Linked DNA regions of Homo sapiens. The protein of the gene in region 4 purifies or fractionates together with the protein of the main gene of each other region. This does not show direct contact. Each region holds a gene or a part of one and is shown on either strand. Other genes may lie near its edges.

The links. Proteins that work in one complex are often made in the same cells at the same time.
Region 1: the proteins of BACH1 (region 4) and ATP23 purify together in Homo sapiens (affinity purification with mass spectrometry; 2 studies listed by BioGRID and IntAct, with this or other methods). This does not show direct contact.
Region 2: the proteins of BACH1 (region 4) and ASAP3 purify together in Homo sapiens (affinity purification with mass spectrometry; 2 studies listed by BioGRID and IntAct, with this or other methods). This does not show direct contact.
Region 3: the proteins of BACH1 (region 4) and RELCH purify together in Homo sapiens (affinity purification with mass spectrometry; 2 studies listed by BioGRID and IntAct, with this or other methods). This does not show direct contact.

Annotation. Positions count from the first base shown.
Region 1 is NC_000012.12:57,951,515-57,955,066, reverse strand, and holds part of ATP23 (mitochondrial inner membrane protease ATP23 homolog), read right to left. Parts: intron 3,310-3,552; coding exon 3,172-3,309; intron 1,462-3,171; coding exon 1,378-1,461; intron 1-1,377.
Region 2 is NC_000001.11:23,435,680-23,439,231, forward strand, and holds part of ASAP3 (arf-GAP with SH3 domain, ANK repeat and PH domain-containing protein 3), read right to left. Parts: intron 3,552-3,552; coding exon 3,482-3,551; intron 3,156-3,481; coding exon 3,068-3,155; intron 1,794-3,067; coding exon 1,745-1,793; intron 1,642-1,744; coding exon 1,451-1,641; intron 1,366-1,450; coding exon 1,232-1,365; intron 976-1,231; coding exon 881-975; intron 350-880; coding exon 172-349; intron 1-171. UniProt on the Homo sapiens protein: Promotes cell proliferation.
Region 3 is NC_000018.10:62,302,203-62,305,754, reverse strand, and holds part of RELCH (RAB11-binding protein RELCH), read right to left. Parts: intron 342-3,552; coding exon 221-341; 3' UTR 1-220. UniProt on the Homo sapiens protein: Regulates intracellular cholesterol distribution from recycling endosomes to the trans-Golgi network through interactions with RAB11 and OSBP.
Region 4 is NC_000021.9:29,299,977-29,305,474, forward strand, and holds part of BACH1 (transcription regulator protein BACH1), read left to right. Parts: intron 1-5,227; exon of another isoform or gene 5,228-5,346; intron 5,347-5,498. UniProt on the Homo sapiens protein: Transcriptional regulator that acts as a repressor or activator, depending on the context. Binds to NF-E2 DNA binding sites. Plays important roles in coordinating transcription activation and repression by MAFK.

The DNA.
Region 1 (3,552 bases), on a different chromosome or scaffold from region 4:
GCTTCCACCCTCTCCACTGACAGCCAGAACACACAGAATTCACCAGAGAAGCAGGGACTCAAGGGCACAGAAAACATGCAGCACAAGACAAGTCACTGGCATATCACTAAGCTGACCTGGCAGAGGCTGAACACCTCACTGTCTAGAGTAATCACCCTTTCCAGGCAGAAGGCTTTTCTTCTCCCTCCCATTCACTAAGTTCACAATTTCTGAGTAGCTCACTGTGACTTTCCACCCCCCACTCCAGAGTTGAGTTACTCTCTTCTCCAGAAAACCAAGGGCCTTCCTGTTGTCCTAAGCCTATCTTTTTTCATCTAGTTGGAACTGATATCGTGATGCTCATATACTTCACAAACTGACTCAGCAGGCTCTTACTGTAGAAAATGACTGACCAGCCTTTCTCCTAAATGTGGACACAGGCCCAGGCAGAACTGCTCACATTCATTATCAATCCATGAGTCCTATACTTTCTTTCCCCACGTCCACCTAATACAGATCTCAAAGCCTTTCTACCAGGATAATCTTGCCTTATAGCTCTCTTTTGTTTTTTGTTTTTGTTTTGTTCACACAAATCCCTCTCAGCTAAGCTCATCATACTCAAGTCTGTGCTAAGCCAAAGGTTTTCTATCACATTATATAGCCTTTACAGGTACACTGACACATAGCCATAACTTGTGCAGCAACACACTCTCTGTTCTGAAAGGGATTACATCTTTTGTCTCCAGAATGCTATGGTAGATTCAAAATAGAAGTCAAGAATTGTTAGAATAACAGTAAGACATGCTGTGATTTCACTTCCATTCCTTATCCACCCCCATCGAAAAGTATCCCAGATGCAAGATCTTAGCTCCTTTTTTTTTTTTTTTTTTTTTGAGATGGAGTCTCACTCTGTGGCCCAGACTGGAGTGCAGTGGCATGATCTCGGCTCACTGCAACCTCCATCTCCCAGATTCAAGTGATTCTCCTGCCTCAGCCTCCATAGTAGTTGGGACTACAGGTGTGCTCCACTACGCCCAGCTAATTTTTTTGTATTTTTAGTAGACACGGGGTTTCACCATGTTGGCCACGCTGGTCTCGATCTCCTGACCTCGTGATCCGCCCGCCTCGGCCTCCCAAACTGCTGGGAGGCATAAGCCACCGCACCAGGCCTCTTTTCATTATTAGACTATCTCACACACTCATTGAGTCACATAGCTTGCCCATAATTACAAAGTAGAACTAAATTCCATCTACTTTGTTTAAATGGTACATACTTTGTATTCTTTTCACATACGAAGTTCTTTCAAATTTCAAATACTGAATGTACTTTTCATTTCTTTATTCATTATTTCCACTCGTAACACTCTGGAGGGGAAGTGATTTCATATTAGTTTTTACCTGGTGGTGTTGTTTTAATCCAAAATGTAACCTGAATATTTCATTGACAAGTGAGCAGTCTCCACTAAGGTTAGCAGCTCGAACCTATCACACAGAAGACAAATAAAAAGAAATAAACGCTCATGCTCTATATATCTTTATGATATCAACCAATTTTTAAAAATTAGAAAAGAATATAAAATTAGCATCTTTGTCTGAGAAAAGAGTATTTGTGACACTTCTTCTTAAAGGACTTTTTAAACTCTATTGACAACGAGAGCAAATATCTATGAGCTATGCTAGACAATGCCAAATACACTGGAGAGATGGGGAAAAGTTCAATCGCCTACCAAAGGAAATTTTCTAAACTTTATGCGTAGCTTTACTGACAGAACTAATTTCTTTTGGAACCAAAAGTCAGAGAGCTAGACCTCAGAGTTAAACTACACACTCTACAAGATACAAATACTTGTAGAAATTGCCAAAAGTACTTCAAGAAAGCATTCTTGAAATAAACTGAGTTTCAATGTGACCTTAAAACTGAATGCATTAATATCTGAGACACTTTGAGAATATGCCCCTCCCAACCCTTGCCCGAATCTCCCTTGGAGCTTCCCTCAAACCTATATAAGTTCATGACCTTCCTCTAGGGACTTGATTGTCCTATGAAAAATGAAGCAATACAAAACACAAAGAATCAAGAACATTCCAAACTGGTCACGCTATGAGCATGACAGCCTGAAATTAGGACATATTTTCAGATTTACTATACTTCAATGAATGAAAAAGTCTTAGAACTACCCACATAGATTCTACAGGCAGCTTGACCACATTTTTGCTAATTCATTGCTAACAGAATGGCCCACTTCTTGTTCCTTCTTCAATATTATGGCCTCATTCCTCTGAGGAGCTCAAAGTACTTAACACACTTTAACTAGCTAAAAGGCATTAATTCTCACAGTACCCAAGAAAGAGACCTATTTAAAAATTCAGGTTTCAGTCTATTCTCCAAATAATTGGAATTATAATTAGATGCAGGGGGCTACATATTAATTTCAAGAGAAAGGGAAATAATCGAAGTTATATAGTATAGGCTTGAGATTTAGATTATTTTAATTAACTCTTCAATTAATGACATCCAAGTATATGCATATGCAGAATACGCTCTCTCTAGGAGCATATTCCAAGAGCAATCCAACGTGCTTAGTAATAAATATCTTTTTATGTTGTATTTTTGAAAAGAGCATGTTTTACTCTAGGGCAAGCAAGGAGCTCTATGGAAGGCAGCTGGGCAAGCTAGTTAAAAACACTAGTTGTAATCCTGCCTCTACCACTTACTAACTTTGGAATCTAAACAACTGTCTCACTTTCCACATATGTAAAACAGGGACAATAATAGTATAATATCTATCTCAGTAGGTTATTGTGAAGATTAAATAAGAATCTGTGCAAACAGAACAGTGTTTGGAACACAGCCCTCAGTAAATTTTAATTATTTTTTTATTTTTATTTTTATTATTAATGTCTCCTATGGAATACATTATAAAATATATTCCATAGGAAAAAATTAATAGCTTATTAAAGTCAGTCATCACTATTACTAGGACTTACAGGATATAGTTAAGAGAATTCTAAAAATACACTTTAAATTTCTCTAACTGTATATCAAAAATGGTATTCAATGTTAGTTATAAACCGAAATTCAAGACTAAGGTAGAACTATGACAGTAAGAAAAGGAATACATTTAAATAAATTACACTTGAATAAAATATTCAAGCATAGAGTATTCTGGAGAAAAATACAATAAAACTCACCTCTGAGCACGCCAAATGTCTGATGTTGGTGAACCAGTCGACATGGGCACGACAATGATCAAATGCATGAATAAGCTCGTGTGTGACCACTCTGTTCATATGGGCCTGATTATGGATATTATTCTGGCACAAAACTATCTAGGAGACACCAAAATAAAAGAAGTTCAGTGATTCTAAAATCTCCTTCCATAGACTCGATCTTCTCTCCCACATGACCTCACCTCTCCCCCACAAGCTCACCTGCCTGGAATATCTCTACCCACTCTTCTTCATTGGCCACACATCTACCCATGGGACAAGTCCTAGTCCTAAGTGTACATGCTCCAATTGCCTCGCCCAGTGACTAACTTCTCCCTTCTCCTCTCTCTGGACTACAGCAGT
Region 2 (3,552 bases), on a different chromosome or scaffold from region 4:
CACCCAGGTCTGCCTGACTGAAGCTGTGCTCTTTCCCACTTACCACTCTGATGGGTGAGATCTGAGCAGATGTCAGAGGTGGGGTGGAGGGGAGTAACAGCTGGTCCTGGAGAAGAACTGGGGAATATGTTAGACAGGTGGGTTATAAGTGGCCCTTGGAGGGGTTCTCACCTGTGCATCAGGCCCTGGCAGCGGCTGTCCAAAGTCCTGCCCATTGGCAAAGGCCTCCAGTACCGACAGGAGGTCCCTGTTGCAAATGGCTGTCCAGAGTCGCTGAGGCTCAGGTGTGCACCGGCGTGCAAACCTATGCTCCACATACTTGGCCATAATGTAGTCCCTGCGGGTGCCCCTACCAAAAACAACCACAGGATCTCAGAGCATGGACCGTGTCTGCCCAGCTGATCCCTGGGGCCCTCCCACAGGAGATACAGCTCTCTTTTTCTCCAGAACCATGTCCTGAAGACGTCTAGATCTGAGGCTCCCCTCTCCCCAGGCTTTTTTTTTAGACAGTCTCACTCTATTGCCCAGGAGGGAGTGCAGTGGCGCAATCTCGTTTCACTACAACCTCTGCTTCCAGGGTTCAAGCAATTCTAGTGCCTCAACCTCCTGAGTAGCTGGAATTACAGGCGTGTGCCACCACGCCCAGCTAATTCTTGTATTTTGAGTACAGGCGGGGTTTTGCCATCTTAGCCGGGCTGGTCTCAAATTCCTGACCTCAAGTGATCCGCCCGCCTTGGCCTCCCAAAGTGCTGGGATTACAGGCGTGAGCCACTGCGCCCAGCCTCCCCAGACTTCTGATCCAAGACTTTTCTACGACCCTGGACACTGCGGAGGCAGAATCCCCTAGGCAGGGTGCCCCTCTCTCTGAGAATCCCCTTACATGTCACTCTCAGCTGAGGGTTTAGGGCCGCCGTGTGAGGGTAGCTGGGCCTCCATGACCTCATTGAAGCTCGTGTTTCCCATGTTCAAGGCCAGCTGGAGTCGTAGGAAAATAGACGTGGGGCGGAGTAAGACCGGGCGGTTAAGCCTGCATAGGGTGGAGCTCCAAGCCCCCAGAGTCCCGCCCCTCGGCCGCCCTCCCGGTTCAGGCCCCGCCCCTGACCACCCGCTACCTGGCTTGTCCCAGCCCACCTCGGCCAGGTCCCACCCACAACCTGCAAGCCCCGCCCCCGGATGAAACTACACCCCTAACTCCGCTTCTGGCCCCTTCCAGGCCCCGCCCCGCCCTCACCAACAACTCGGAGGGGCCCAGCAGGTCCAAGGTGAGTGACTGCATGCGCGAAAAGCGCACGCCCAGTTCGCGGTGGACGCCCGAGCACTGGATGCAGGTGAGCACGCCCAGGTTGGTGCTGAGCCACGTGGGGTCTGCAGAGGAAAGCAGCTGGAGCCTGGAGGTGCAGCCCCTCCCCTCCACTTAAGCCTCCCTCCTGCCCCGGCCCCGGGGACCGACCTGCAGCCCCGCAGTCGCAGCACTGGCTATTCCCAGGCCTGCTCTTCACCTCCGCGATGAGCAGCTTTGTGAGGTCGTGCGGCTCCCCATCATGGCCGGCGGACCCCCAGGACCCCGGGCCAGCGCTGGGCTCCCCGAGGAAGGCGCTGCTCAGGGCTTCGTCCTTGCTGTTCTGCAACACTGACACCCACCTGCGGAGATTGAACGGGGTGGGATGGGGATGTCAAGTGGGAAGAGATAGGGCCGCCGGCCCCCACCCACAAGGCTGGCCGGGCTGGCCGAGGGGGCACTCACGCCTCACACTCGTGCTCGTCCTCTGCCTGAAAGTGGTACGTCCGGTTGTCTGTCGGGAGAGAAGGGGGCTTCTGACCCACAGAAATGCTGCTGGCCTTCCCGGAGCCCAGGGAGCCCCCACCAAAGCCGCTGGGGCCACATGGAGATGTGTCCCTGACAAGTCGGACTCTCAAGCTAGGAGTGGGAAGGGAGTGGAATGACAGTGGCCAGCACCAGGGGCAGTTTCTCAGAACTGGCCTCCGAAGTAGGATCCCAACAAAGCTCCCTCTGCGTGAAGCCCTGGTTCCAGGCTCAGACGAGGTCTCAAAGGGCTTGGAACCCCAGAGAACCCAGCTCTGAGGCAGGGCATCCTCTGAACCAACTGTCACCACCCCACTGGGCCCTTCCTGGTCTCCTCCTGGGCGACCAGGCCTCCTGTCTGGTCTCCCTGCTTCCCATTTCCCCTTTCCCCTAGCCTGTACCAGCTCCCAACTGTTGTGCCCAAGGCTCTGCTCTAATTACACCACTGCCCTGCCCCAAGATCTCCCATGGCTCTCTATTGCCAGGAAATAAGGTCCAAACTTTTAAGAGGGATTTCCAGGCCTCATCTCTCACTCTGCTACATGAACCCTCCACTCTGGCCAAACCGGCCAGACCCACTCTCCTGCTTCCATGCCTTTCATCATGCTAATCCTGTCTCCTCAAAAGCCCCCACCCCACAAACTCTTCATTCTACATGTCCTTCAAGGCTAAACTCAAATACTGTCTCCTCCAGGAGCCTTTCCTGATTCCCCACAGCAGTGCAGGCCTTCCTGCTCCCTAATCTTCTATGGGGCTATATCTGCACCCATCTTCTGGACAGCCCCCTCATCTTACAGTCCTGGGTACCCACCCCACACCCCTGCCAGAGAGTTTCCTGAGGACAAGATCTAGGTCTTTCTCAGCCTGTGTCTGCTCTCACACAAAGCCTGCACCAAAGGCTCTGAAGAACGAAAAGTAGAAAATGTAAAGAAACAATAATTTCATCTCCTTCAAGTCTGGGTATTTGGGAAAAAAAGGTAAAATTTTAAAAAAAGAAATAATTTCAAAACCCAGATGACCCAAATCCACTCAAATATGCTCTGTATAAATAGCCACATTTATTATGTAAAGTGGGTGCATTTTGACATTTAATGTGATGTGGGTATCCTAGACCTAAGGATTCTTATGTCTGCAGTAGCAGCAATTCGACACCATGTGTGGAACTGGACACAGACCCCTCACTGAAGCCCCCCGGGAGCTGACAGGTGTCTTAGAGAAGCCCTGAGCAGCTGTGGGTGGGGGAGAGGCACAGGGACCACTCACGGGTCACCAGGTCGAAGCACTTTTTCTCCTCAGGGTTTGGCCTCACTTGGCACGTCAGCAGGGTCAGCTTCACCGGGGGCCGGTTTATCTGTGGGAATTTAGGGGCGGAGGATGTATGCATTACCTCTGGCCCTCCACATTCTTTAGGCCTCCATTTCCCACTCTGTTAAATGGGCATAATCATCCTGTTCCATTTGTGTTTCTCCTCACCCAGCAGCACCTCAAGGATGTGAAGTGTAGACTAAGACTAGATTGGGGCCTTCAGGTCCCATCTGTCCTCCCAAACGGGTCTCCAGCTCCCTGGACCTAGGTTTGGGGGCCAGTCTTAGAGGGAGGGCTTGACATTATTTGCTCAGAACACCAGAAGAAGAGGGTCCATCGTGCCCTGAGACTCCCACCACCTCTAGGCCTCACCGTGCTGTGTGAGATGGTCAGGCAGCCATACTTGACTCCACACTTCCTTTTCTGCCAGACTCTTCGAATTC
Region 3 (3,552 bases), on a different chromosome or scaffold from region 4:
ACAGACCATCAACTCAATTTTCTATCACCACAGTTGTAACTCCAAAATCAACAAATATACAGCAGTAATTAAAAGCAGTGCAAATATCTTTGGAGGTTAGGATAAAATTATAATGCAAGAACATAAAACTGAGGAAACAAAAAAGGCAAGTACTTCAAGTACAAGGAACCAGTCGGCTTGAGGTCCATCTTAGTGTTTACTGGGGGCTTCTTTCCTGCTTCTACTTCTTTCTCTGAAATACATTGGCCAACATGGCACCTGATGTTGTCAACTGGCCCATTTTGTTCAAAAACTTGGTCTTTGTATCTTCACTCACTAAGCTTGCAGCAATTGACATTGAGCTAGGAAAGAAAATTTAAAATTCATGTAAAGCAATTAAAAAAATAAAAATTTTTCATTTATTTAGTAGCATATCATTAACGAACACACTCTGAATTGGCGTCACAAAAGGGAAACTAATATTTATGGAGGGTAGTTTGTATATGCCATACTAGGTTAGGAGCTTTCATGTTCATTATCTATAGTAAAGGAAGCAGTATGTGTAGTGGTTAGGAACAAGTCTGGGACTGGACTGAATCTTGGCTCTGTTTACCAGCTCGGGTAAATTATTTAATCTCATCTGTAAAACGAGGATGATTCTAGTATTTGCCTCCTAGGGTTATTAGGATTATATTAACACAACTGTAAAGTGCTCAGTATAGTGCTAGGCACATAATAGCATGATGTAATTGTTAGTAGTTATTCTTTATCACTTCATTTAATTCTTACAGCAATCCTGGAAGATAAATATTATCAGTATTTTCACAAATGAGTAAATTAAATTGCAATGAAGTTTTGTGCTGTGCTGATAATAATCCTATGGTATATTCCTTTTTAGGGGGATATTCCTTTTTTGGGGGATGTCCTGAATTGCCAGTTGCATTGATTTCAATCAACAGTTTCGAGTCCATTTCTTCTTTCTTTTTCACCAACCTGCTCTGTAGGGAATAAACACAATCTAAATGACCTCTAAAGATTGCTAATTTATCATAGTACTGAACAGAAACAGAATACTGATCAAGCACAATTTTTCAATGACCTGACAACTGTCCTGTAATAGACTTGGAATCTAGTTTATTGCCTTGTGCCTTTGGCCAACATGCTTTAGCTCTCTCTGACTCAGTTTCCTCATCTGTAAAACACAGCTTGCAATTTCTGTTGTAAAATATTCTGAGGATTAAGTAAGATAATGTGTTTGAACATGTCAAAGACAACGTGTGGCAAGCTGCAGGTGCTCAACATGTCTGTTGAATCTACTGCATGAGGTGTGTGCTGCCACGGAGCACACCTGGGTCTATGTAGTCTATAAGGGTGTGCACTGTGAATTACTCAAGTTAAAAACCAAACCAGAACTCCCACCTTGAAAAGCTTCTCCACATTGCTCTTCTGACAGTACAACAGTGGGTTCTCTTTCCTGCTGCTTCTCTTCCCACAAAGTAATCTTCCCTAAGGTTCAGTATTTGGCTCTTGATTCTTCAATTATAAAACTTACTCTCCAAGTTTCAAATTGAATCGCATCCCTTTTCCTGAGGGTCAGTCCCACATTACTATTATTTGCTAGATAAAGCCAACATCTCAAGCTTCTGTTCACGCCCTAACTTTAGAAATAACTCTCCATTTTAACTCCCCCCTCTTTTTGCCAGTGGTTCTACTATTTTCCTCTCTTTCTAACAGTGAATTTAATAGCTCCTTCTACTTCTATTTCAAACCAATCACAAGTCCTGTGACCTTATTCTTTGAAGCATCTCCTCTACTGTTTCTTTTTACTTCCATGGCTAATACTTCACAACTCAGTGATTCCAACAGTCTTCCATCTTTAATTACCAGATTAACTTCTAAAAGTCACTTCTTGATATCACATCTTAGCTCAAAAATCTTTAATGCTTACATACCACCTACAAGATGAAATGTGCTTTGCATTCAGGAAATGTAGCAATCTATTTCTTGTTTTTCCATACCACTGTCACTGACTGTCTCTTTGACCCCCTTCAGTCAGGTTTGTCCAGTCTATTGTTCAACCACTCTCAAATCTTTCTATCCACTGCCTACCCATCTTTCAAAGCCCAGCTGAAGTCCTATGGTGCCTTTCCTTAACATTCTAGCTTTTCAGTGCTCTTCCTTTCTTTAGAAAACTCAGTGTAAGTCAAAAGATAAGTATGATTTAAATTTACATCTAGAAAAAGGGGATGTATGGGTCAGACCATAGTTGAGATACCAAGTTTTAATGATATTCTAAGAGGAGGCCAACCATGATGTTAAGGAGTCTGGAAACTATAAGAGGTAAAAATGAAAGGAATGAAGAATATTTGGCTTGAAGAAGATTTAGGTGACTTAACCAATACCTGCATACATCATATGTGAAAAACTGGATATATAATGTATATCTGCAGGGGTGTATATATCTGCGTAGGTCTACTGATACACATCATAGTCACCTGGAAAACTTCTGAAAATGCAGATCCCTAGGCCTAATCCAGTACTTCTGATTCTTTCCATCTGAGGTAGGAGGCCCAGGTCTATACTACAAAGCTTTTCAGTTAAAAAAAAAAAATCATTGCATTACAGCAATTCCGCCCCCACCCCAAGACACAGTGTAAATTTTTATCAGTTTTATAAAGGGGTTTGTAACACTCTCCCACCCCTCTACCAGATGATAAAGACTTGTTTTAGAGGGCCTAGGCATTTTGGAAAGGGAGATTTTAATCCAGGAAAAGATAATTTTTTAAAAAGAGTTATTAAAATGAAATGGGCTACCTTGTAATGTGTATCCTCACTGGAAGTTTTCAAGCAAATCTCAGATCTTTTCTTTGCAACTAATATCCCTATCTTCTTTAAAACTATTCATGTCCTATATTACTTATCTCTTTTCTTCTCTTTAAAATCTCCATTTGGGCCAGGCACAGCGGCTCACAGCTGTAATCCCAGCACTTTGGGAGGTCAAGACGGGTAGATCACTTGAGGTCAGGAGTTTGAGACCAGCCTGGCCGACATGGTGAAACCCCCTCTCTAGTAAAAATACATTAATTAGCTGGGCATGATGGTGCACGCCTGTAATCCCAGCTACTCGGGAGGGAGGCTAAGGCAGGAGAATTGCTTAAACCTGGGAGGCGGAGGTTGCAGTGAGCCGAGATGGTGCCACTGCACTCCAGCCTGGGAGACAGAGTGAGACTCTATCTTGAAAAAAACAAAAACAAAAACAAAAATAAAATCTCCACTTGATTTCTAACACCATTCTGGTTTGCCTTCTATTTCTCAGTTAAGTTCTTCCATATGCATCTGAAATGTTGGTGTCTAATTCCATGCCTGGTCACCTTCTCCCCATCAGAGCCCCCTTTTCAAGTGATATCATTTATCTACCACTGCTCCAACCATAAGCCTTTAATTACCACCCATATGCTGCTAATGGTTCTTAAATCTCAATGAACTGCCTATAGTGTTTCTCTACCTGTGCCTCACATTTTAAATATTCCTCTTCAGAATAGTTCTTCCTATAGTTCCATTTTGTTGTATTTT
Region 4 (5,498 bases):
AGGATAAAGGGTGGAAATCCCAGATGTGTTAGTGGCAGAGCACTTGAGCGCTTCACATAGTCAAGCAGAGAAATGGGAAGAGGTCGGCTTGCTTCTTCCTGGTCTTTGGGTAGTGGTGCAAGGGCTGGGCTGGGCTTGAAGGCACTTGCCACTTCTGCCTTTGGACATCTTGAAGAAGCTTAGGGAAGAAAGGCTCCCGGTGAGTCAGCTTGGAGTAGGGTGACTTTGGCGTAGTGATTCTTGTATTGTTGTTTAACCTATGTTTCTGTCAAGTGGTTTACTGTTGTTCGGTATGTTGGTTGGTTAACAAGGTAGGATGACTCTCTAAAAAGTTGGGTTGCTGAGTCATTCGCCCCAGCTTGAGAGGTAATTAGAAACAGCTGGTGCAAATACTCTCATCACATGCCTCCACTATAAAAGGCCAAAGAGCGCTCTAGAGAGGTTGCTTCAGAAGGCTGAAGGGGACCCAGCTGGGGTTGTTTTGATACAGGTTATCAGTGGGTGAAGTGGAAGAGCACTCTTAGGCAGTGGCCAATAGCACTGAGGCGGGTTTAAAGACGGAGCCTCGTGACCTGCTGTCTGAGAATAAATTTGCGCTGGAGAGAGCTAAAACTGGGGAAGAAATTTGCAGCTAGGGGTAACCCAATAAAAAATATTGTAACAAAAATATTTACTACTCTTACTGGACTTAGTTTCCTTTTTGTGGTTTCTGTTACGTGGTCTATAAGTTTCAAGCAGTGAGCTTAATTTGTGCGTCATAAAAATTTGGTTATGAGTACACAGAAGGGACTTGCTCTGTTTCTCATGGCCCTTGGCTTTTCATGCATACACAAGAAGTTTCAGGAGTCAGAGGAGGGTAAGCACCATATGGGTGGAATTAATAGGTCTCATTGGGTTAAGTCTCGAAAGAGCTGTTTAATAAATAGCCAACCGTAAATACCTGTCTCATTGTCTTGATTATATGACACCACTGCCTTTACACCTGGTGTCATTGCTTCTTGCTTTAAAAAGGAGCACACAACCCAAATATTTATATGAGTCCTCATTGCAAACAAAGTTTAGGAATGGGAAATGTAGAGCTGGGAATTTGGCCCTTTGGTGAAAAAAATGATGATTCCTATTAATGGTAGTTCATTTAAAATATTCTGTATTAGGAAAAACGATTTATTTTGTTCCTTTAAGTCTGGGACTAGAGGAGATTAGAAATCATGAATTTTGTAAGTATTAGGGCCTCCAAGGTGGGGTGCAAGGAGGTTCATTTGGAAGGAATATATTAAAACTTTTAAAAACTTTAATATAAGAAAGACATTAAGCTTAAAGATGCAGACTAACAATCGTGTATTCATATTATATAATGCGCGTGCATGTCCTCCACCCCTTTGTTGCTGGGGGAACATAGCCTGTTAACCACTGTCAGTAACATTCTTTCAACAACCGGAATGCTTTTTCTTTTAACTTACGGTTTCCTCCTAAGAGTTCTTTCAGACTGTTAATATTCCATTTAAGTTTTATTTTATAGGTAGTTCTATTGTCTGTATGTTTTACTTTAGAAGCTTGAGTGTAAATTTCTTGTTACATTGTTGATACTGGGGATGGAAATACAAAAAATACAGAATTTCATTTGATAACCTGTATTTTGAATTTGGAGACAAGCCCAGCGGTTGGTTTAATGTATGTGATCTGAAGTGCAGTGATGTGTAAAAGGGTGCAGTGGAAATACTTGAAGATAATCTACACATTGGAGTGTAATATGTATAGCATATGTAAAAATTAGTTTGTACTGTTACTCCTTGAAGTCTGTTTTTTTTTGTTTGTTTTTTGCCAAGCTTATGTTCTCTTAAGATTAATAAGACGACATATTCAGTAAATCCCTTGGGAAGTGGCATTTATTCAGAATATCAACCTCCTACTAGTGCTGGGGGCGGGTGGCGGCGGTGAGGGTGGTTAGTATTTACCATTCAGTTAAATCTCATGTGCCATGTGCCTTCTACACCCCTGTACTGTGAGAGGTGATGCTCAGAATAACAGTTGCAAAGCCCGTTAAAATTACCACTTGTCAGATTTTCTCTTCATAGTGCTGATCTCTCCATGACTTACGTTTTAGGAATCACCACCTCTCTTCTAATTTTCTGACTAATGTTCTGTTAATGAGAGAATTGTCTTAACCCTAAAACCTGCATTCCCTGAGCATTCTAGACAGAGGGTTTATTTTATGTGGTGGAACGATGATTTTTGAGATTGTTTTGATTTAAAATATATGTCAAATGAGGTAATGTACCGATGGCCAAGGTATGGGTAATTTGAGTGCAATTCGCCAGAATCCGTGCCCCTTGGAGGGAGTAAACATTTCAGGACTGCAGCTAAAACATTGACTTACACTCTCCTGAAGCCCAGGCACCTGGCTTACACAGTGCACTAACATAACTGAAGTCTGGGTTTGATCACTGTACAGTTGACAAAGAAGCAGTAAGCAGAATGGTTAAAAAGTAGTTCTGGAGCCAGACTGCTTAAGGTCAGGTTCTGGTTGTGTCACCCACTTTAAAGCCTTGGGCAAGCTCTTCTACCTGGTAACTAGTGCCTCATTGTTTCCTCTGTAAAACAGGGGTGGTGATAGTAGAATCTGTATCAGAGAGGTTGTTGTGAGGATTATATGCGTTAATACGGGGTAAGTGGTTAGAACAGTGCCAGCTTTATAAGAAACATCAAGTGTTAGGTGTTATTATCTGTTGTTCAGAATCAGGGAAGTACTTAGTTACACAGTAGTGTTTTATAGCTGTTGAGAGCTGAATTGCCGGCATTGATCACAAGTGAGACTGGAAAAACAACCCGGGGAACACTCTTATGTTAAGTCAGTAGCACCATCTCAAACATACATCCAACTTCTGAGGGCAACGAACACAGGACATAGCTTTTTACTTAAAGGAATCTTAACAGTCTCAGCGGAGTGCTTGAGGTAGTCACTAACCAGTTAATTGAAACTGGCTTTTACGAAATAAAAACACTTGCCATTCTTTGGCTAGTCTTTTCCACGTTGTAGTTGACATTGTGGCCTGGCAGCTTTAGTAACCTGTCCACCCCTCCCTTCTTGTTAATACCAGAACAGAACTAGTTTCTCAGTACATATTCCTGGGCCCTATCCAGTTTGTTGGAAACATTTAGAATGTAAATTTGTAAGCTAATTAGTTTCTTCTAAGTATTATGTTTTCTTTAGATGATATGCCTGTACTAATACAGAAAAATTATCCATGAAATGGATATGAATACAATGGACATATTTATCGTATAGCTTTTTGTACCTGTTAGTAATTCAGAAAGGTTGTGTTATTTTGACCATTCTTTCAGCCAGATTGTAAGTTTCCTGATGGTGAGAATCTGTGTCTTTCTGTTTTATCTCCTATGGCACTCTGAATGTGCCTTGGCTGTGTTTCTTTAATAAACTGTTGGTTGCTGAACTGGGTGGTATGATATGCGTTCATTCTAGTTCTGTGATTTTGAAACTTGGGAATGTTTAACAGATTGAAGGAGAGAACATCGTGTGTGGTACCTTGTAAGTGTGCACTGAGTTGAAATTCTTTTGATTATTTAGCTTTCTACTTTCTGTTTTTATCATTGGTGTGATTATTGAGAAGGCAGCTGGAATTAAGTAATTCTAGTTCATCTCCTAAGATAGACATAAAACTTGTCTTGTGACTTATTTTTACCCATAATTGGATTAGAATTGAATTGAGCAAAATATAATTTGGTTTTCTAGATGTTAAATGTCTTATATGTCTAATACTTTGAATATCACTCCTCTAGAACAGGTTCTTTGTTTTATTTAGGATCAGGGACAGGTTAGAAAATATTCAAATATTCATAGGATAATAAAAAACTGCCCTGAAGCAAACGTGAGGAAGAAGAAATAGTGGTAGCCAGAATCTTGGTTGTTAATGACCAGTGTAGAAACACAGTGGGCATGCAGTGAAATTGGCTGGCAGCTGGTTCCTTCTCAGTACGGGCACAATTTAGAAAATGTTACATTAATGCAGCTGAAATTTTGTGCAGATCATGTTATTTGAAAAATAAATGTAAACACTTTTTGCAGTGCCTTAGGAAAGTCATCGTTCAAACTAATATTTTTGTAATAAACTAGTTATTCCCAGTTTTTTTTTTCTTTTTTTTTTTTTTGAGATGGAGTATCACTCTGTCGCTCAGGCTGGAGTGCAGTGGCGCGATCTCGGGTCACTGCAACCTCCGCCTCTTGGGTTCAAGCAATTCTTCTGCCTCAGCCTCCGTAGTAGCTGGAATTATGGGGCACCCCCCACCATGCCCAGCTAATTTTTGTGTTTTAGTAGAGATGGGTTTCACCATGTTGGCCAGGCTGGTCTCGAACTCCTGACCTCAAGCAATCCACCCGCCTTGGCTTCCCAAAGTGCTGAGATTACAGGCGTGAGCCACTGTGCCTGGCCCCTAATTATTCCCAGTTTCTTTCAGGTAAAGTTTTTTTCACTTTTTAAATTTATCATTTTTTTAGATCAGATCAGTCAGTGGACAGTTGCACTCTACTTCCCCATCCCTCATTAAAGTGGAATTACACTAAAAAAGGTTTTCAATTCCTTTGTAGCCTGGACATTAGTAATAGCCTACCTCTAAGGCTGTAGAGTAAATAGTATAGTAAGGGAAATGTCCCTCCCTCCCCCTACACACCTTTTTTCCAGTTATCTCTTCTTTTTATTGATTTGTCTGCCTCCAGGACCCTAGGGAGGTGTTTTTGTCCTAAGGAGGTGAACTCCTGAGGGTCCTATTGAAGAAATAGGGCGACCTATCCACCCAACTTCCTCTTTACTGATATCTTCACATGCTTATTGCCTTATTCATTTTCTAAAGTGTGCCAGCGTCTTTCAGAAGTCAGCTAAATTAGTGCAGTTGCTCATCCATCAGACAGTTTTGTTATAAAATATGTGGCTATAAAAGATTGAATAAATTTATTAGGTTGTAATTTCATTAATGTGTATTTTATATTTAAATATTATTTTAAAAAATGTACAGTGGTTATCTGATCTTGGCCCAGGCCTCTTCAATTTCCAGTGTACCTGATGTCTCTTTATCAACTGTTTTTCTGAGGTGTATCTCAGCCTGGCCTTGGGTACTCCCCTAGGTAAGAGTCATAATTCAGGTTAAAAGAGGTAAGAAAAAAAAAAGCTTTTGGCTTTTGTAATCTTGTTTTTTTTTTTTTCTTTCACATTAGCAAAAGACTGTTGAAGTAGAGAGCATTTTGCCCAGCTCACTCGGATTCTTTGCTGGCATGCCTTCAGTTTCAGTTGTCATCCAGAGAAGTCAAAGGAAATGCTGCTTGGGGATGAGCATGTAATTACGATTAACTTTCCCTACTTCGTTGTCTCTTTGTGGTAAAAGACTGTCACAAGTGCTATTCAAACTATAGGTATTTTTTTTTAGATTTCTAAAAAGTATATTTTGTCTCTGAGGGCCTCCTGTCTTTGGACTAGTTTGTCTTTTTC